Linked DNA regions of Homo sapiens: all the other regions are linked to region 1. Evidence: fine-mapped expression QTL. A gene starts in region 1. Each other region holds a variant in brackets. All regions are shown on one strand. Distances are from middle to middle. Region 1 holds the start of TRPV3 (transient receptor potential cation channel subfamily V member 3). Region 2 overlaps TRPV3 (transient receptor potential cation channel subfamily V member 3). Region 3 overlaps TRPV3 (transient receptor potential cation channel subfamily V member 3). Region 4 overlaps TRPV3 (transient receptor potential cation channel subfamily V member 3). Region 5 overlaps P2RX1 (purinergic receptor P2X 1).

What was found. PIP is the estimated chance that this variant, and not a neighbour inherited with it, causes the effect.
Region 2: its variant is fine-mapped to the expression of TRPV3 in whole blood (TOPMed, PIP above 0.99).
Region 3: its variant is fine-mapped to the expression of TRPV3 in whole blood (TOPMed, PIP above 0.99). The same link has a PIP of 0.9 or more in NK cells and blood mononuclear cells.
Region 4: its variant is fine-mapped to the expression of TRPV3 in blood mononuclear cells (TOPMed, PIP above 0.99).
Region 5: its variant is fine-mapped to the expression of TRPV3 in breast (GTEx, PIP above 0.99).

The regions. Positions count from the first base shown.
Region 1 is chr17:3,556,008-3,560,110 of GRCh38, forward strand. TRPV3 (transient receptor potential cation channel subfamily V member 3) reads right to left here and starts at 1,805. Exons shown (of 18, transcript NM_145068.4): 1 at 1,669-1,805. RefSeq lists a silencer at 764-823 and enhancers at 2,005-2,821, 2,464-2,523, 2,604-2,653, 2,684-2,913, 2,822-3,636 and 2 more.
Region 2 is chr17:3,534,055-3,538,171 of GRCh38, forward strand. TRPV3 (transient receptor potential cation channel subfamily V member 3) reads right to left here. Exons shown (of 18, transcript NM_145068.4): 7 at 1,519-1,659. Among named protein-coding and RNA genes, the nearest start is that of TRPV3, 22 kb to the right of the region's middle. RefSeq lists a silencer at 1,695-1,744. The variant C/T (reference allele first, on the strand shown) is at 2,106.
Region 3 is chr17:3,512,963-3,517,079 of GRCh38, forward strand. TRPV3 (transient receptor potential cation channel subfamily V member 3) reads right to left here. Exons shown (of 18, transcript NM_145068.4): 16 at 3,495-3,607; 17 at 1,631-1,710; 18 at 1-1,049. The coding sequence ends at 955. It also overlaps a transcript of SPATA22 not described here. Among named protein-coding and RNA genes, the nearest start is that of ASPA, 39 kb to the left of the region's middle. The variant A/G (reference allele first, on the strand shown) is at 2,202.
Region 4 is chr17:3,526,276-3,530,392 of GRCh38, forward strand. It overlaps TRPV3 (transient receptor potential cation channel subfamily V member 3), which reads right to left. Exons shown (of 18, transcript NM_145068.4): 9 at 3,752-3,928; 10 at 2,562-2,720; 11 at 1,750-1,851; 12 at 579-652. Among named protein-coding and RNA genes, the nearest start is that of TRPV3, 29 kb to the right of the region's middle. RefSeq lists an enhancer at 1,330-2,250. The variant A/C (reference allele first, on the strand shown) is at 2,350.
Region 5 is chr17:3,907,658-3,911,774 of GRCh38, forward strand. The region is part of intron 1 of P2RX1 (purinergic receptor P2X 1); the gene reads right to left. Among named protein-coding and RNA genes, the nearest start is that of P2RX1, 6.7 kb to the right of the region's middle. RefSeq lists enhancers at 3,567-3,616, 3,997-4,066. The variant C/T (reference allele first, on the strand shown) is at 1,615.

The DNA of each region.
Region 1 (4,103 bases):
CTCTACTAAAATACAAAAAATTAGCCGGGCATGGTGGTACATGCCTGTAGTCCCAGCTAGTCGGGAGGCTGAGGCAGGAGAATCACTTGAATCCAGGAGGCAGAGGTTGGATTGAGCCGAGATTGTGCCACTGCACTCCAGCCTGGGCGACAGAGCGAGACTCCGTCTCAAAAAAAATGAAAAAAAAAAAAAATAAAGTTTTTATTAAACATAAAAAAGGAGCTATGGCTGACCCCTGGGGGCAGCTGGGAGTTGGGTGCAGAGGCTCTGGGTTACATAGGAGAGCGCGGGCTGCGTTGGGGGGTGGGGGAGACCAGAAGCCAGGGGCCAGGAGGAGGCTGCTGCAGGGGCCATAGGGACGGGGAAGGGGGCCAGCTGGCCACAGAGGGATGACATGGGCGGGGAAAGGGCTGTGTGGACAGGTGGTGACTGTGTGGTCAGGGGGTGCCACTCTCAGCTTGAATCATCCTCAGGGGACTCACCTGGCGACACATAGGTGGGGGCAGGAAGACGGATTTCTGTAAGAAGAACCCAGCTGGGTGGGGTGGAGCTGGGGCCACTGGTGATCCTACCCCAATAGGAAAGCTTCCTGGAGGAAGTTTCCGGAGCCAGGTGTCATCAGGCTGGAGAGAGTCCCCCGCCCTCCAACTCAAAGGGAGCAGGCTCAGGATGGAGGAGGCATCGGCGAGGGAGAGCTTTGGCCCTGGAGCGTAGGCAACCTTGAGGCCAGGCAGGTGGAGTAGCCCACAGAGAGGGACTCCTGGGCACCCGGCCCTCCCGTGTCCAGTCACGGCCTGATGAGGATGGGCAGCCTCTATGGCTTTCCCCATCCCCACGTGGCCTTTGGTGGACTAAAAGGCTGGGATGCACCGAGCGTGAAGGAGACAGAAGAAGGGCACGTCTCTTGCCCCTCCCAGGGCCTCTGGTTTCCTTTCTGAGAAGTGGGCTGAATGGTCCCCAAGGACTCTGTGGCCCTGAGAGCTGGTTGCTCTCTCTCTTCTCTGGGCCCGAGAATGTGGCCTGCCCTGGGCCTCTGGGGCAGGAGAGGCTCAGGGAACTCTGGACTAGGGCCGCAGCAGCTATCATTAGCTCCCTGAGTCACCCCGTAAACCCCACGTTCTCACCTGCTGGACTCTCTTGTTGCCCTGGCCCTCCCTCTCTCTCCCAATCCCTGACACTGATTGAAATGGCCTTTCCCGGGCGACAGACCAGGCCGCGGAGCCACAGCTGCTGACTCAGCACCTGTGAGATGCCTGGGCCCCGTCTGTCTCCCACGGTGGGGCCACCTCCTCCCATCCTGAACTCCCATCACAATCCTGCCCCAGAAAGCCACCTCCCTGGGTCAGCCTCGGGAGGCAGGAGCCTCTCCTCTGCCCCCAGCAGTGGTGAGATTGAGATGTCCCTCCCCAGGATTCCCAAACCTCAGGGGAATGTTCCTGAGTCTGTAAGGACCTATATTCTCACACATCCCTACAGCCAAGAGTGCAGCCAAGAGTGCCTCCCTACAGCCAAGAGTGGGCCCCTGGCTGGGGCCCAAGCTCCTTCCAACCCTCCTCCCAAGGCCTATTGGCCAAGGGCAGACATGGCCCAGAGGACCTCTGAGGGCCACGCTCTGGGCTCCCCAGGGGCCTTGGAGATCACCAGCTGCCTTGTGCACAGAAGACTCACCTGGTGAGGTTCTGGGTGGTCGTGGCAACCCTTGCCCTGAGATCACCGCATGTCTGGGGCCCAAGGCCCCCGGGTGGGACTGTGGCTGAGGCGGCGGGAAGCTCTCATTGCAGGCAGAGGGATGGCTGGAATGAGGCGTCAGAGGCAGAACTGGCTGAGCCACCTGCCCTCGGCGCCAGGCAGGCCACGCCCACCAGCCACAGCTGCAGCACCCGCCCACCCACGTGGCCCGTGTGAGTCACCCCCACACCCACACAGCAGCCTCATCCCCACCGGAGAAAAGGCAGGGGAGGCCGCAGGTGCCAAGATCGAAGTTGTGGGTCCAACTCCTCCCTCTCTGGCATTCCATGCTGGGCAGGGACTGCCCATCTCAGGCCTATTTTTCCAACTAGGAAATGGGAATGATAACATCTACTTTCCAAGGGAGCCGTGAAGAGCCAAAGAGATCACAGAGGTGGGAGGGCCTAGTGAAGAGTCAAGCGCTCTGCTCTGTCCCCTGGGAGGGAAGACCGCAGCCCAGGCCTAGCCTGGTTGACCTCAGGGTGGCCAGCCCCAAGACTCGGCACTTGTTCTCAAAAGTCGGTTCCTGGGATCAGGTCTCTCGGGGACGGAAGTCCCCATTTAATGCTGTCCACCAGCAGTCACGCATCATGGCCCTTAGTGTCAGCCTCACCCCTTCCTGGCTGAATGACCTTAGCAGGTCATTTCTCCGAGCCTCAGTCTCCTCATCTGTGAAACGTGCTTCATAAACCCACTTTGCAAGGTTATCGTGGGGCTTCAACAAGTACAAGTAGAAAGGGCCAGAACAAGGCCCAGGGCACGGCAAGAACTCAATAAACAATGTCAGCTCTTAGCTATGATTGCTTTTGTCATCTCAATGTATTCTCCCAGCAACTGCCCAGGTTGCCCTTCTCCAAGGCCAGGGCGTCATAGAAGGAATCGGTGCCCTCTCTCCTGGCCCAGGCTGCAGCTGTGAAGTGGGTGGAGTGAGTCAGGATGGCCGTGTGTGTCTCGCGTCACTCAGGAACTGCACACCTGCTCCCCGGGGCGAGATGTGGACAAGACACAGCTGGGACAGAGCAGGAAGTCTCTGCTGACGCGGCCGCAGCTGGCGCCTGATGGGCAGGGAAATCCCCAGCTGTGAGCCTCTCAATCCCTCATCATCACAACCTGCCTGGCCTGGGGAGGAGGCAGGAGGCAGGTGAGGCTTCTAGGCCACGGGAGAGCAGGACCTATGGCCGGTAAGGGGCAGACCAGACTTGAGGGTGTGGGTGAAGCAGGAGACCGCTTCTGCCGTTGAAGTCAGGGGGTCCTGAAGTTCCCACTCACAATCTGAAATCTCATGACTGTGCCTGAAACTCGACCGGAAAAGCCCGATCTGGGGTTGAGCACGGCCTCCGGCCACTAGCTTACTCACCCTCTCCCGACCCAGCCCCGCGCCCTCCCTGTTTGCCTCTGGCGGCTCAGACGCCTGGGGAGGAAGCTGCTGCCAAATGTCAGTGCTTCCATTTTGCTCGTGTTCATAACTTTTCTCAGAGGGCAGGTGGGAGCTGGTGAAAAAGGCCCCTGTCTCCCACCCAGAGGTGTGCCCTGTGCCCAGCAAGGAAGAAGGGGACCCCCGCTCTGCTATGAGAGGCAGCAGGAGCCAGGTCACCCAGTGGAGTCACAGTCACTACTTAGGAAGCCCGAGCCCATCCTAATCCCACCCCAAACACACAGAAGCAGCAGCTTCAGCCCCTTAGATGGTCTATATTCAACCCCATTTAACCCAGCACATGGTGAGAGCCCACGGGAGAGGCCGTGGCAAGGGCGCAGGTGGACAACGAGGGATTCAGAACTGGAGAAGGCCGTGTCCACCCTCGTGGGCCACAGGGGACACAGGCTCAGGCAGGAACCATGACCCACCATGTGGGTCATCAGGACAAAATGGGCTGAGACCCCCAAGGCGGGAGGAAGTCCCTGTGATGGGGTGTAGGGGATGAGTTCGGGAAAGAGGGAGCATCTGCCTGGACTTGGAAGGAGGGAAGAGGCCACAACATGGTGAAACCCCGTCTCTACTAAAAATACAAAATTAGCGGGGTGAGGTGCTGCACACTGTAGTCCCAGCTATTCGGGAGGCTGAGGCAGGAGAATTGCTTGAACCTAGGAGGCAGAGGTTGCAGTGAGCCGAGACTGCACCACTGTACAGCCTGGGCAACAGAGCGAGACTCCGTTTCCAAAAAAAAAAAAAAAAAAGAAAGAAAGAAAAAAGAAAAAGAATGGAAAAGTGAAAAGGAATATGATCAGAACAAAAATATAACATGCTATAGTGTAAATGCATACAACACATTGGTCAATGCTATTAAGTTTAAATTAAACACACACACACACACAGAGAGAAACAGAAAAAAAGATAAAAGATAAAATGACCACTTCATACTCTTTAGAATGGCCCA
Region 2 (4,117 bases), 22 kb before region 1:
CAGCTCCGGACACCAGGTCTTCAGCTGCCTCCCCTCTCCTCGCCCCACCCAACAAATGCTTCCCAACACCAGGTCCAACCAGCTCCTATGCAGGGCAATGGGGACACACGATGAACTGGACAAGACCCCGTTTTCCAGGACACCCACACCTGGACACGCAGGGCTGCCCAGAGCACAGACTAGCTAGTCCTGCTGATTAAAAAACCACCCAGAAGATAGTCCCAGCTACTCAGGAGGCTGCAGCATGAGAATCGCTTGAACCCAGGAGGCAGAGGCTGCAGTGAGCCAGATGGCACCACTGCACTCCAGCAGCCTGGGCAACAGAGTGAGACTCCATTAAAAAAATAAAAATAAAAAAAATAACACCCAGAAGAGAAAACAGATGGGTGATCATCAGTCAGGCAAGACTGGGTGGCAGGAGGGGTCTCCTCTGCAACAAAGTTACACAGAGAAATTTTTGTGTGTGACGGAGCCATTTGTTCCCTGTTCTGACTGCAGTGGTGGTGAACCAACTCGACGCACTGTGAAAATGAACAGAACTGTCCTCTAACACGGGTGACTTTCACTATATCTAAATTATGCATTTCAATTTTTTTTTTTTTTCCTAGAGCATCCTAACCCCAATTGCTTCTGGACTCTGTGACTTGTGAGGCAGGGGAGTTCTGCCCTCTCACTCTCGACTCCCTGTCTGCAGTCCTGAGATGCACTGGGCCCTGGCACAGAGGTCAGAGCTGGAGGCCAGGACACCTAAGTCAATGCCCTGCTACCCTGGGGCAAGTCCTTTCCCTTCACAGAGCCATCTCCTCGCCTGTAAAATGGGGCTGCCTCCTCAGCCTCCCTCCCAGGTCTCTGTTCCCTCAGAGAGCTACCCAGGACAATGCTTCTAAGACCACCAGGTGACACCACCGGAACATGGACTCCTCCCCCAACACCTCCTCCCAGCCCCTCCTTCTCTGGTCCACCCTGGTGTCCTGCTCAGATGGACATGCCCAGCCTCCTCCCCTCCTGCCCCTCTGGGGCACCAGAGCTTCTTAAGGCAGGGACAGTGTGGGTGGAGCTCAAAGCGGGGTGGCCCCTCCCTTCCTCCCTCCTTCCTTCCTTTCTCTCCCTCCGCCCTCCTTCCTCCTCCCTTCCTCCCTCTCCCTCCTCCTTCTCCCTTCTGTCTCCTGCCTCCCTCCTCCCTCCCTCCCCCTCCTTACTCCTCCTCCCTCTCCCTCCTCCCTCCTCCCTTCCTCCCTCCTTCCTGCTTCCCTCTTCCTTTCTCCCTCCTCCCTTCCTTCCTCTCCCTCCTCCCTTCCTTCCTCCCTCATCCTTCCTGCTTCCTTCCTCCCTCCTCCCTCTCCCTCCTCTCTCCTTCCTGTTTCCCCCTCCCTTCCTCCCTCTCCCTCCTCACTTCCTTCCTCCTTCCCTCTTTCTTCCCCCCTCCTCCCTTCTTCCCTCCTTCCCCTTCCCTCCCTTCCTCTCCCGTCTCCCTCCTCCCTCCTCCCAGACTCCGCACCGGGCGGGGGCGGCACCCACCGAAGTAGAAGCCTTCGTGTTGGTACTTGGGGTTGAAGAAGGCCCCCTTGGCGTGCGCGTTGACGTCGGCGCCGGCGGCGATGAGCAGGGCTGCGATGTCCCCCTGCCGCCGCTCGATGGCGATGTTCAGCGCCGTCTGCCCTGCGGAGCGGGCGGGGACGCGCGGGAGCCTCAGCGCCGGGCACAGGGGCCTCTTGCCCACCCGCTCTGGCCTCCATACCCTCCCCGAACCCACGGGGAGATCAGAACCCTGGTCTGTGTCGCCAGCTACCAGGAATCCCAGCTTTGTTCTTTGCTTCCTTCATGCCTGCGCGGACCCAAGAAATGTTTGTGGAGCGCCTGCTCCGGGCTCCGGCCCCAGGCGCTGGGGGTCAGTGGGTGCCCAAGACGCAATCTCGATTATTTTCCTCAAGAAGCCCGCAGTGTCACTGAGAACGAGGTGCTACGATTCAGAGGGGTGCAGGAGCTGCGGTACCCAGAGCAAGGGCCCTTCACAGCCAGAGAGCGTCAGGGGGCTTCCCAGAGCTCTCTAACCTGGGACCTCAGAAGTTTAGCGAGGCGGTGTGGGGCCAGCTCATCAGCCAGGG[C/T]AAGAGGGCAGAGCTTGTGCTAAGGGCCAGAGTCACAGACGGCCTTGAATTAGGAAACTGGCAGGACGAGAATGTAGGGCTCGGTGCATGGGTGTTTTCAGACCTCTCTGGCTGCAAAAGTGGAGGATGCGTTAGAAGCAGCCGAGACCAGTGAAGGAAATGATGAGGCCTGTAATCCCAGCACACTGGGAGGCCAAAGCAGGTGGATCACCTGAGGTCAGGAGTTCGAGAGCAGCCTGACCAACATGGTGAAACATGGTCTGTACTAAAAATACAAAATTAGCCGGCCGTGGGGGCGCATGCCTGTAATCCCAGCTACTTGGGAGGCTGAGGCAGGAGAATCGCTTGAACCCAGGAGGCAGAGGTTGCAGTGAGCCGAGATTGGTCCATTGCACTCCAGCCTGGGCAAGAAGAGTGAAACTCCATCTCAAAAAACAAACAAACAAACAAAAAAATGATGAGGCCTGGACTAAGGGGAGTTGGAGGGCACATGAAGGGTGGAGAAAGGAGGAAGCCCAAAGACCCTCTGGAGAAAGAGCCTTCAGGATGCCCGGCTGGGAAGAAGGGTGTCTCAGGTAAGATCTAGGTATTCAGCCCTGGCGGTGGGTGAATGATACGCTGGTGACACAGCAAGAGGAAAGAAGGGTAGCGGGAGAGACACTAAGCCTGCTGGAGACCAGAGAACTTCCAGATGGAAGGGACCAGAAGGCTGGAGTGGGGGAAGGGTCTCGAAATGCACCAACAGAAACAGCAGTTTCCAAAGAGCTGCCGCTGTGTCATAAACAAACATAGTCTTGGTGGATTAAAGAACCAAGCTTTAAGACACATTAGAAAGTTTGTTTATAGCTAACCTTTTGGTAGGGAAGACCTTCTTAAGCAGGATCCAAAAGGCAGAAACCATAAAGAAAAGGCTGACATATTTGCTTACATAAAGGTTTTTGGTTTTGGGGGTTTTTGGTTTTTTGTTTGTTTGTTTGTATGTTTGACATAGGATCTTGCTGTGTCACCCAGGCTGGAGTGCAGTGGCGTGAGCATAGCTCACTGCAACCTTGAACTCCTGGGCTCAAACGATCCTCCTGTCTCAGCCCCCCAAAAGCTAGACTTTCATATTTGGCATAAGAAATGCTCTAAGACATACAGTTAATCAAACAAAGCAACTTGTAGAATACAGACGTGATGGTCCTATTTTATGTTAGATAAGTAAATAAAACTATTTCTGTGTACATATATACACACACACGTGTGGACTACAGGCCTGCACCACCACTCCCGGCTTATTTTTAAAATTTTTTGTAGAGACAGGATCTTGCTGTGTTGCCCAGGCTGGTCTTGAATTCCTGGGCTCAAGCAATCCCCCTACCTCGGAGATTTCTGTATTTCCGAATGCATCCTAATGAAAGTTAAAGACAAGTGATAGGCTGGGGAAAATATTTGAGATATATAAAAAGGCAATGTGTTTTAGGGCCGGGCGCGGTAGCTCACACCTGTAATCCCAGCACTTTGGGAAGCCGAGGCGGGTGGATCACTTGAGGTCAGGAGTTCGAGACCAGCCTGGCCCACATGGAGAAACCCCATCTCTACTGAAAATACAAAAAAATTAGCCAAGTGTGGTGGCGGGCACCTGTAGTCCCAGCTACTCAGGAGGTTGAAGCAGGAGAATCACTTGAACTCAGGAGGCAGAGATCGCGCCACTGTACTCCAGCCTGGGCTAGAGAGCAAGACTCTGTCTTTTTAAAAAAAAAAAAAAAAAAAAGGCATGCCAGGCACGGTGGCTCACACCTGTAATCCCAGCACTTTGGGAGGCTGAGGCGGGCAGATCACGAGGTCAGGAGATCGAGACCATCCTGGCTAACCTGGTGAAACTCTGTCTCTACTAAAAATACAAAAAATTAGGCGGGCGTGATGGTGAGTGCCTGTAGTCCCAGCTACTCGGGAGGCTGAGGCAGGAGAATGGTGTGAACCCGGGAGGTGGAGCTTGCAGTGAGCATGCCACTGCACTCCAGCCTGGGCAA
Region 3 (4,117 bases), 43 kb before region 1:
CCAGCACACAGGCACGCGCTACTGTGAGGTCAGGACGAGGAAAAGAGCCAGGACCTTTCACCCAGATCGCGGCGGCCCAGCAGGACTTGCCCGGAGTGTCTCATGCAGACTTTTGTGTGTGTGAAGAAAAGCTTTTTGTCTTGCTCTGGGCACCCTGAGGCCAAATATATAATACTTACATCCAGCCCCAAAGCCCCCAGTCTGTCTCCACTTTTAAAATCACAAACTTCATTGTAGTAATTTTCATTCTCAACTGAAATGTCTTTTCCGTATTGCAAGTTAAAACCCTGTGTTAATTCTGCTACTAAAAACATCTCTCAGCTTGAGACAGTTTGAACCTTGGGGTGTCAGGGGACGTTCACTCCAAGGATGGTCTCCTTTTCCCCGAAGGGTTCCGGAAGGGTGTTTCCAGAGCGCATTCCCCTCCTCCCCCAGGATATCCAGCTTACCTCCGTCCCCCGCACACTCTGGGATGGGATCACGGGTCTCCCACAAATTCAGGCAACCCAGTCACAGCAGAAGAGATGGTACAATGTGTGGGCTGGGGTTGGGGCTGACGGGGGAAGCTGGCAGGAGGAAAGACTCCTCTCCCTGCTCCTCAAGACTGCTGCCCCTTTCCCGCCATCCATCTCTCCCAGCCAAGCCGACCTGCAATTGGTAAAACCAGAGGCTTCACCCGGGACTTCAGGAGGCTCCCAGGCTCCAGACTGCTGCTGGCTGTAGGTTTACACCAGCTGTTTGCCAAGTAACAAAATCCAGGATGTTTCCCACTCAGACAAATTGACAACTGCCCCTCAGTTCAGACACCCACTGAGCACTGAGCACGAGGGTGCACTCTGCTTCTAGGCCAGCAGAGCCGGACTCCACCATCCCTCAAAGCCTCTCTGCACAGAGTCGGTGACTCCGCCTGCAGCGCCAGACAGCGCACGCGCACACCAGCTCTGGGTTCCGCTTCTACACCGAGGTTTCCGGGAATTCCTCGACTTCTTCAAATGCATTGAGAGTGGTTTTGCTGTTGTTCCTGGAAGAATCTTGGATTTTGTTGAAATCTGCTTTTTAAAAAAATATATATTTTAGAAATATATCACTCTGCATAGTGTGTTTCTTTTTTCTTTTTCTTTTTTTTCTTTTTTGAGATGGAGTTTCCCTCTTGTCACCCAGGCTGCAGTGCAGTGGTGTGATCTCAGCTCACTGCAACCTCCACCTCCCAGGTTCAAGCAATTCTCCTGACTCAGCCTCTCGAGTAGCTGGGATTATAGGCACCTGCCACCACGTTCGGCTAATTTTTGTATCTTTAGTAGAGACAAGGTGTCACCATGTTGGCCAGGCTGGTCTCAAACTCCTGACCTCAGGTGATTCACCCGACTCGTCCTCCCAAAGTGCTGGGATTACAGGCACGAGCCACCGCGCCCGGCCTGCATGATGTGTTTCTATGGCTTAGGGCTACGCCATTTTAAAAGTTGTGCCAACTAGGGTTCTAAAAGTCAGAGCTGGAAGAGACCTAAGAAGCATTTCCATTCAACCCTCCCATTTGACAGATGGGGAAAGTCAGGACCCTTAGACTTGATCTGCCCAAGGTTACATGGTCTGAGACAGGAGCGGACACCATGTCACCTCACAGCGACAGTACCTGTTCGTCTTACAGGCCCCGGGTCTTCGTTAAGGAAGGAGACGTGCGTCTTCCATTCAGTCCACTTCACCTCATTGATCCTGCAAATGTGATAATCATTCTTACTATTTCACCAGTGCCTCACTGAGTACTAACAAATAGCCCTGCGTTTGGGACGTCCTGGTGTCTACACAGCTCCCCTTCTGTCTGTCCTAGAGATCAGGAGCACCCCTGACCCGAGGGGTCACACCAAAGTTGTTGGAGTTTGAACTCTATCCCCATCTCCACGTCCCCAGGCCTCAGAGAATCAGTTCTCCTTCCATTGTAGGGAACTCGGAAATCCTGCAAGTTGCCCAGACAGGTGTAAAGGGTCCAACTTCAGACAACAGCTGCTGTGCCTGACTGGTGACAGCCCAAGGGGAAGCGGGGACAGACAGAGGGAGGGCCCGGGCCACGAGGGTGTGAAGATTAAACTCCAAGTGTAGCAGGGGTTGAGGAAGCACGAAGAGCCTGTGGTTAGGGTCAGTGCCCCAACAAGAGTGGGTGGCGTCTGAGGTGTTAGAATACAACCATAGGCATTGATGTGACTTCA[A/G]TTCACACCCAGAGAACATCTCTAGAGTGAGGGTGGCAACATCACAACTGTTTGTTAGGGTAATGATTGCAGTCAGAAATGATGCTTTCCACGGGGCGCGGTTTCAGTCAGAGAAGTGGGTTAAGGTATGGTCATACTCCGAGAAGGTGGTCTGTAGGCTCAGGCAGTTGGGTCAGGGTAGGAGGAGGTGGGCTTATCAGAAAAGGTGTTCATGGGGCCGGGCACCGTGGCTCACGCCTGTAATCCCAGCACTTTGGGAGGCCGAGGGGGGTGGATCACTTGAGGCCAGGAATTCAAGACCAGCCTGGCCAACGTGATGAAACCTCGTCTCTAATAAAAATACAAAAATTATCCAGGCGTGGTGGCATATGCCTGCAGTCCCAGCTACCGGGGAGGCTGAGGCAGGAGAATCGCTTCAACCAGGGAGGCGGAGGTTGCAGTGAGCAGAGATCGCATCACTGCACTCCAGCCTGGAACTCCTTTTAAAAAAACAGAAAAGAAAAGGTGGTCATAGGATATGTAAGGACTTTAAAAAAAAAATGCAAAAAGCCAGAGATCTGTCAAAGTAGCCACGTCACTTTCCATCTGCCAGGGGCAAAAGGGGCCTCAAGTCACCCGGGGTCACAGGAACTCACACAGGGTAAACAGCAGGAAAAGGAGTACCCAGCAGGCAGATCTTCCCTAAACCAGATAGCGAACACAGAGAGACCATGGAGGCACCTCCAAAAAAGCAGAGAGAGGGGCTGGGTGCGGTGGCTCATGCCTGTAATCCCAGCACTTTGGGAGGCCAAGGTGGGTGGATCACCTGAGGTCAGGAGTTTGAGACCAGCTTGACCAACATGGTGAAACTCTGCCTCTACTAAAAATACAAAATTAGCCAGGGGTGGTGGCGCATGCCTGTAGTCCCAGCTACTCGGGAGGCTGAGGCAGGAGAATCACTTGAACCCGGGAGGCGGAGGTTGCAATGAGCCAAGATTGCGCCATTGCACTCCAGCCCGGGCAACAAGAGCAAAATTCCGTCTCAAAAAAAAATAAAAGAAGAAAGAAAAATGCAGAGAGGGGAGCCGCTGTTGGCAGTCTCCTTCTCTTTCTCTTCTGAAGCTCAGGAACCCCCATCTCAGGGCCTGCAACCCCATAAGCAAATTCCTTCTTCCAAGGAGGCCACTGGAAGAGACAGTAGCTGTGGTTATGGTTAGCAAGTGGCGGCACTGTTTCTCTAACATCCTGTCACCATCCTGCCCCTCTCTACCCACCCCAAAGACCACCACCCCAGGGCCCTTCTCCCTTTGTTACCGCAAACACAGTCGGAAATCATCCTCGGCCACTTTGCACAGCTCTCCCATCCGGAATCTGCTCCTCAGCCATTCTGGTAACATTTTCTCAAACTCCAAGATGGTCCTGGCTCTCTGGGGACATAAGCAAGTCTAAGGAGTAGGCATCCACACTCACAAGCACACACAAGGGCACACACACTGTCGGGGAGCCCACTCCACCCTCACCTCATGCTTAATGCATAGATCGCAAGGGTTTGGCTAATCTACAGAATTCAAAGACAAAAAAGCAGGCCGGGCACGGTGGCTCACACCTATAATCCCAGCACTTTGGGAGGCCAAGGTGCGTGGATCACCTGAGGTCAGGAGTTTGAGACCAGCCTGGCCAACATGGCGAAACCCTGTTTCTACTAAAAACACAAAAATTAGGGCTGAGCGCACTGGCTCTTGCCTGTAATCCCAGCACTTTGGGAGGCCAAGGCGGGTGGATCACCTGAGATCAGGAGTTCGAGAGCAGCCTGGCCAACATGGCAAAAGCCGGTCTCTACTAAAAACACAAAAATTAGCTAGGCGTATGTCAGGCGCCTATAATCCCAGCTACTCGGGAGGCTGAGGCAGGAGAATCACTTGAACCTGGAGGTTGGA
Region 4 (4,117 bases), 30 kb before region 1:
AAGACCAGCCTGACCAACATGGCGAAACCCTGTCTCTACTAAAAATACAAAAAGGAGCCAGGTGTGATGGTGCACGTCTGTAATCCCAGCTACTCAGGAGGCTGAGGCAGGAGAATCGCTTGAACCTGGGAGGTGGAGGTTGCAGTGAGCCGAGGTCACGCCACTGCACTCCAGCCTGGGCAACAAGAGTAAAACTCCACCTCAACTAAAAAAAAAAAACAACAACGTAAACAGGACTGCTAAGCCTGTTGCCGCCTTCTCCACTCCATGCTGCCTTCCACGTGGGGCTCTGTGATGGGTAGAGTTGGCCATCACCACCATCTCAGCCTCCCAGAGTGCTGGAATTACAGGCGTGAGCCACTGGGCCCCACAGCCCTGAAGTTTTCTGACCTTCTCCATGGGCATTTACGTGTCTCCTACTAGGAGGAAGAGAGGAGACCCCTGGCGTGTAACCATGGCAGAGTGACTGGGACACCGTGGCACAGTAGGATATTTGTTCAAGAGGCGGACACGGCAGCCACCATACAGGACGTCAACCCTGCCTGTGAGGCGATAACCAAGGGGCCAGACCTACTTACAAGACAAAGTGGAACCAGGCATCCGAGAGGATGGACTGCAGATCCGAGGGTCTCAGCAGGAAGATGGCAATGCCCTAAGGCCAGGAAGGAAAGAAACAGTGCACCCTCTTCATGGCCCTCAGCAGGGGAGCTGAGCAGAGGGTGCTTCCCCAGGACCAAGACTCAGTGAGGGTTGAATGCACAAAGGCCCAGCTAGAGTCCAGGTGGCGGATCTGAAAGGGGACCTGTGCCTGGGGGGCGTAGGCACCTCCACGGTGAAGGTGAACGCTCCCTCAAATCTTCTCACCTCCCTCACTCCTTACCCCATCCTCACCCCAGAACCTGCAAAGCGGTACTACCACTACAGCCGCCTTCCATTCCCCACATCCAGCCTAGCGTTCCAGCCTCCGAGCCTTTGCTCATGCTGTTCCCCATATCCACCCTGTAATGACCTTGTCCTCATCGTCCTCGTGCCCAATCCTACCCCACCAGAGTAAGTGCCATCTCTGCCTTCAAGCATCTCTACCATTCCCTGTCCCCAGATAAAAGTCACCTCCCTTCCTCTGAACACTGATCTGAACCCAGCTTAGGGTCTTTTTCGGTCTATCATAAAGTCTTGATATTTATGCCTATGCTATGTCCCCAACCAGGCTGTGAATTCAAAGAGGGCAAACTCGTCCCAACCCTGTCACCTCCTCCAGGGCCACACATATATAGAAGGTGCTCAGATTATATGTGTTGATTCATTGGATGGATGGAAGGATGGATGGATGGATGGATGGATGGACGGATGGACAGATGGAGAGATGGAAAGATGGTTGGATAAAGGATAGAAGGATGGTCGGTAAGGATGAGTGGACATGTGAATGGATGAATGAGTGGCTGGGTCCATGAAAGAGGGCAGGTGATCGGATGGGTGGATGGGGGTGGAAGAGGACAAGGGACACTGAGTGGCTGGGAAGGTAGATAAATGGCGGATAGTTGGGCAGATGGATAGAGAAGTAGATGGATGAAGTAGGTAGGATAGGCCAGCCTTATCCATTTTTTCCCATGTTATAACTCAGAAAGGTAAGGCTTGGGAAGGAAACGCCTCCCCAGAACCCCCCAGCAGTAATGGCAGAGCAGAGAGGGATGGAGGCTGTCACCTGCCTGCCTCGCGGGGCGGTCTGGAAGGGCCGGGTGGCCCACTTACCTCTTTCACAGAGATGCACATGGCCCAGATGAGCACAAACATCCTCCCTAGGAGCTGCAGCCACCCCATCTTGTGCGTCAGGGCCAAGGGGTGCGGGATGGCCTGCAGGGAAAGAAGAGGGGTGGTCAGTATAGGAAGCAAGGAGGACAGGGCTGGCACCAACTCTAGAGGGACCAAAACCCAGGTGAAACACTCAAGCCGGGCCAGAGACCAGCATGAAACCTGATCTCTGTACAGGGCAAGAGAAGGAAGAGCAGCTCCCTGACCCCAACTCTCCTCACCCTTGATGGAAACCCAGAACTCTACAACGAAGAATATCATCCAATCCGTGCTAACAACCCTCACACTCCATTGCAATAGCCTTTCCGGAACCCATCCATATCCAGGCACTCAACATGGCCTCACAGCACCGTTAAATAAAGCCGAGGCTCTGTGCCCCACGTGACGCATGGGAAACCGAAGCCCAGCAGGCAGGGAGAGCTTATCCTCCTCCCGTTTCCTGCAGCCCTCACAGCAGAAACACCCAGCTAGTTCTATATTTACAGACAGAGACCCTGTGCAGGGCCTGAGTCTCCGAATTCTCCAACTTTCCTCCCAGCA[A/C]GGGTCTGCCCTTGGGACTCGGCACCTGGGGCTTAGCCCAGGCTAAGCACTGAAGACATATTCAGTTCCCTGGGAAGCGTGAAGGACAACTGGGGGACCCCGCCCAATCTCCTGGTCTCTCTGGGCCTCAGTTTTCCCACCTGCACGTGGGGCAGCTCCAAGCCCCTCCAGCTCTGACGGCCCCATTTTCCCCCTCCAAGGGGCCCACGTACCTCCTCCTCCCGGGGGCGGTAGTACGAGACGAGGGTCAGGGTGATGTTGTAGAAGAAATAAAAGCAGAAGGACAGAAAGAACATGTGCTTGGCAAACTTCTTCCACTTCATATGCAGCAGCGTGTGCAGCGGCTCCAGGGTCAGCATCTCATGCCGGTTCTAGGGGTAGAATGCCACCAGTCACCATGGAGATGAGGGAGAGAGGGAGGGACCGTTTTCTAAAGGCCTGCGGGAGCTCTGAGTCAGTGCTGCAGAAGGGGCCCATCATTATGCCCGATGGACTGGTCTGGTTGGAAATGCTGGGAGGGTGATTTCCGGCTCCTGAGGCTCCTCCCCAGGGTACTAGGGCAGCAGTCAGAGGCCGCAGGAGCCCGGGCTTGCAGCAGGAGGACCCGATGCACAGCAGAAAGTGGAGGATAGAAGCGGGCAGGAGGTGGTGGCAGGGGTTCCAGCCCCAGTTTGCTCCTCCTTTGCTGTGTGACTTTAGGACAGACCCTGACCCTCTCTGGGCCTCAGACTCCTCACCTATAAAACTGCTAACAATCCCTGCCCTACCAACCAGGCTGCTGTGAGGGTCTGGGAAGACCCAAGGCAAGGGGACTCTGGGAAGCATGACTCTTAGTAAAGTATGAAGGAGGAAGACCCAGCCTGCTGCCTCACTGCCCCCAAGAGCTGAACACCTCTCATAGCTGCTCCTCTCTTCACCTCCAGTTGCACCGAACTCTCCCCTCTAGCCTCCTCCAGGAAGGCCCCCCGATTGCTCCTCAGTGCACTCTCTGACCCTCATTTGGGACCAGGTTTTGGGGAAGAAAGAATTCTAAGCCTGGCCGTATACACCAACGGGGGGTGGGAGAGAAACAATATGGAAAGGATCAACCCCAATCACCCCATCACCCACACCCACACCCAAACAGCCCTGGATACTCGGTCCAGAAGACCTCCCGCCCACCGCCCCCGCCACCACCACTCAGGTCTACAGTCCAAGGTCAATCAGGAAGAGTCGGGCCCAGCATCTGTCCCAGGCCTCGCCTTTTCTGTGCCTGACTCTGCTCACTGAGGCAACAGAGTGGGGTATGCAGATGCCGAGGGATGGAGCTGGCAGCACTGGGTCTTCCCAGCGTCCTCTCAGCCCCTGGCCTGAGGTCCAGCCCTCTTCTCCCTGCCCTTCCCCGCCTGTGCAGGAGACCCACGTCGATGTTGGTGTTGTAGACAGTGATTTCCAGCACTGAGTTGTCCGTGGTGGTGTCCACGTTGGTGAGGTCGTAGAGGGAGGATGACACGGGTCCGTACGCCCAGTCGGTGAACTTCCTGGACAGGCTCCGGAGCCGCTTCTCCTTGATCTCACGACTGAGGATGTACTTCAGGATCTGGGACAGGAGGAGGAACAACCATCAGCTGCAGAACAGGGGCTTAAGGCCAACAGGGCTGGACCAGCCAGAGGCTGGCTGGGCCCAGGGGATACACCCGCCCAGAATGGGTGGAGACCTGCCTCTGCGCCTGGCGCCATGGCCCCTGGGCCCCGTCTTTATCTGTGGAATGCGCACAAAGCTTGCTGT
Region 5 (4,117 bases), 350 kb after region 1:
AGCCTAAGCTTGGTCACTGCTGTCCCCTGCAGGTCCCAGATAGCAACAGGTGGAGGCATGACAAAGGCCTCTGATCCTCAGTGTCCTGAGTCTGTCACGCTGCCTCCAGCCCCATCAGGGAGAGCAAGAGCATTGCCCATCCCCCCACTGGCCTCCTTGGGCCCCTTCCTCCAGGAGGGCCTCTGGTTCTGTGTCCAAGCCAGAAGGAGCTGATGCAGGGGGGAGGAGGAGTTTCTCCTTGTCCTGGGCCCCTCTGCAGGACAGGCCACTGACCTCCCTCTCGGCACCTTCAGCCCCAACAGCTTAGCAACGTTTCTATCTTTGCCCAAAACGAACTTTCTACCTTTTCCCAAGAGACAGGGAAGCTGAGGCCTGCAGGAGTGGCGGTCTCAAGTGTCCCCATGCTTGAGGCACCCAGCCCAGGACTCAGCCCACCTCCACTGAGCAACACTGGCTTCGACGTGTCTCCCAGGAGGCAGAGCACAGAGGGGAAACAGAGCCACCTGGAGCCCACAAGCCGGGGCTGATGCACCTTGGAGCTGCCGGTCTTGAGGTCGAAGGGAAAGGTCGGTCAGATCTGGCATTCATGACCTCAACTCTGGTGATAATAGAATGACTATGGGCTGGGCGCGGTGGCTCATGCCTGTAATCTCAGCACTTTGGGAGGCCAAGGCAGGTGGATCACCTGAGGTCAGGAGTTCAAGACCAGCTTGGCCAACATGGTGAAACCCCAACTCTACTAAAAATACAAAAACTAGCCGGGCATGGTGGTGGCGGGCACCTGTAATCCCGCTACTTGGGAGGCTGAGGCAGAGACTCACTTGAACCTCAGAGGCGGAGGTTGCAGTGAGCCAAGATTGCACTCTGCACCCCAGCCTAGGCGACAAGAGTGAGACTCCGTCTCAAAAAAACAAAAAATAATAATAGAATGACTATGGTGCCAGGCCTGCTCCTCCAAAGCCATGCCTTGATCTGGCCTTATTGTCACCACCCTGGGAAGACAACCAAGAGGGCCTGATGTCAGACACAGGCATCTTCAGAAGCCTCTCCCCTTCCAGAAATAACCCTCACCATGCTTTCTACCTCGTCATCAGCAATCCCCCATCCTGGGGCTCTCCAATGGCCTTCTCAAGGAAGAGGCCACAGGGTGGAGTGGCTGAGGGTCAGGTGCCAGCCCTGCTGCTCCCCAGCTGTGTGGCTTCAGGCTAGAGACTACACCTCTCTGAGCCCTGGTTTTCTCAATAAAACAGAGGTGACGCCACCTACCTCAAAGGCGCTGCTTATTCATTAAGTGTTTAGTGAGGCTCTGCTACAAACTCAGCCTGGGCCCCAGGAGACAGAAGCATCTAGGTAAGTGTTTGGGGGAAGCTTCTATGAGTTCTTTTTTTTTTGAGATGGAGTCTCAGTCTGTTGCCCAGGCTGGAGTGCGGTGGCACGATCTTGGCTCACTGCAACCTCCACCTCCCGGGTTCAAGCAATTCTCCCACCTCAACCTCCCGAGTAGCTGGGACTACGGGCGCGCCCCACCACGCCCGGCTAATTTTTTTTATTTTTAGTAGAGAGAGGGTTTCGCCATGTTGGTCAGGCTGGTCTGGAACTCCTGACCTCGTGATC[C/T]GCCCGCCTCGGCCTCCCAAGGTGCTGGGATTACAGGCGGGAGCCACCGCGCCCGGCCTCTATGAGTTCTTAAGGAAATTAGCACAGTGCCTGGCACTCAGTGGGCACATATAATGAAAACCTCCCATTTTCACTGTTCTCCGTTCCTCCTTCACAAATTCCTCTTTCAATGTTGATCCGCCCCCATTCCCTGAGTGAGCTGCCTCAGACACGCTGTGTCCCCAGAATTCTATCTCCAGACTGCACTCTCCCCTGAGATTCAATTCCACACATTCAATCATTCAACAAACATGAGCCGGGTGTGGTGGCTCAGGCCTGCAATTCTAGCACTTTGGGAGGCTGAGAGGGGAGGATCACCTGAGGCCAGGAGTTAGAGACCAGCCTGGGCAACATAGTAACACGCTGTCTCTACTAAAAAACAAAAACAAACACGTATTTATCCAGCCCCTATTCATGCGCCAAACACTGTTGAACAAAACAAACACAAAAGTGAACAAAACAAACAAAAATCTCGCACCCAAGGGTCTTACACAGATGCTCCTCAAATGACGATGGGGCTATAACCTGATAAACCCATCCTGAGTCAAAAGGCTCTTAATACCCCCAATAAACCCACCATAAAGTCAAAAAATCCTAAGTCAAACCACGCTAAGTCCAGATGCTCCTCAATTTACAATGTGGTGATGTCCTGATAAATTCTTTTTTTTTTTTTTTTTTTTTTGAGACGGAGTCTCGCTCTGTCCCCCAGACTGGAGTGCAATGAGGCGATCTAGGCTCACTGCAACCTCTGCCTCCCGGATTCAAGCGATTTTCCTGCCTCAGCCTCCTGAGGAGCTGGGATTACAGGCGCACACCAACACGCCTGGCTAATTTTTGTATTTTTAGTATAGACGGGGCTTCACCATGTTGGCCAGGCTGGTCTTGAACTCCTGACCTCAGGTGATCCACCCACCTCTGCCTCCCAAAGTGCTGGGATTACAGGCATGAGCCACTGTGCCCGGCCTACGAAATCTATTTCGTGCCAAGCACTAACCACTATACAGACAGAAATTCAATTGGATCAACCTGAACTCTTCATCTCCCTTTAGAACTTGTTCCCCTGTGTCCTCGTCATGGAGAATGGTGCTGTCCTCACCCTATCACCCAGGCTCAACACCCAGGCAGCATCCTCACAGCCACCCTCCCCATCATGCCCCCACATTCATTGGATCCCCCAGTCCTTCTGGTCCTCCCTCGGCTTTCATCTAAGGACCCAGAAGGGCTGGTTTTGGGAAGGCTGAGACACTGGAGGAGCTGGGACAGGTGCGGGGGCAGCTCTGGCATGGGTTGGGAGGACCGGCCAGGTGGCTGGTGGGACACAGGGTATGGCCATGGGCCACAGGCAGGAGTTGACCAGATGGGGCGTGTGCTGTCAGGGAGCAGCAGCCTTGGGGAGGGGCATGAGCAGACTCCAGGCCTGGGAGGGAATGTGCTCAGAACTGGGGCCCACCCTGAGGCCCCCATGCAACCCGCAGACAAGTCGAGGGGCATCTGGGTTAAGTTCCTTGAGTGCAGGATCTTGGTTTGTTTTGTTCACTTCTGTATTTTTAGTGTCTAGAATAGTGCTTGGCACATAATAGGAACTCAACAAACACTGTGTGTTGAATGACTAACTGAATGTGGAATTGAATCTCAGGCCAACCATTTGTGTTTTTAATTATTTTATTTTTATTGTTCTTTATTTATTTTTGAGACAGGGTGTCACTCTGTCCTCCAGGCTGGAGTGCACTGGTGCAGTCGTGGCTCACTGCAGCCTCAACTTTCCAGGCTCAGGTGATCCTCCCACCTCAGCCTCCTGAGTAGCTGGGACTGACTACAGGCACGCGCCACCACACCTGGGTAATTTTTTTTTTTTTTTTTAGATACAGGGCCTCACTGTGTTGGCCAGGCTGGTCTTGGACCCCTGAGCTGAAGTGATCCGCTCACTTTGGCCTCCCAAAGTGCTGGGTTTACAGGCGTGCACCATGGCACCCGGTCTGTTTTTCTTTCTTTCTTTCTTTCTTTTTTTTTGAATACGTCACCAATCTCTAAAAACCAAGCGGTTTCTTTCATGCATAAATCTCACTTCCCACTTCTCTTGAGACGTCGGAAGCTCTGGCTGTGCCAGGTGTTACGTGCTGCGGCAACAATGGGCAGAAGCTGAGCAGGGGCCGCCCCAGGCGTGAGGCCTGCCGGGGTGACGACATCTGTCACCCGTGCTCACTGCCTCTGCCTTGGGTCCCGCCCCGTCCCCCCTTCCCATCCCTGCGGCCTCTTCACAGCTGTCCTGCCTCCGGTCCCCACGCCCACCCCTGCCTGCTCCAGGCCCTCCCCTGCTAGACATCCTGTCTTGGCTCCCTTCTGCCTGCAGAAGAAATCCGGGCGCCTCAGCCTGGTGTTCAAAGGCCTTCGCCATCGCCCCTGCTCTCCCTTTCACAGCCTCTCCCTTGGGCTCCTTTTATGGCCCCTTCAGCCTAGTCCCAGT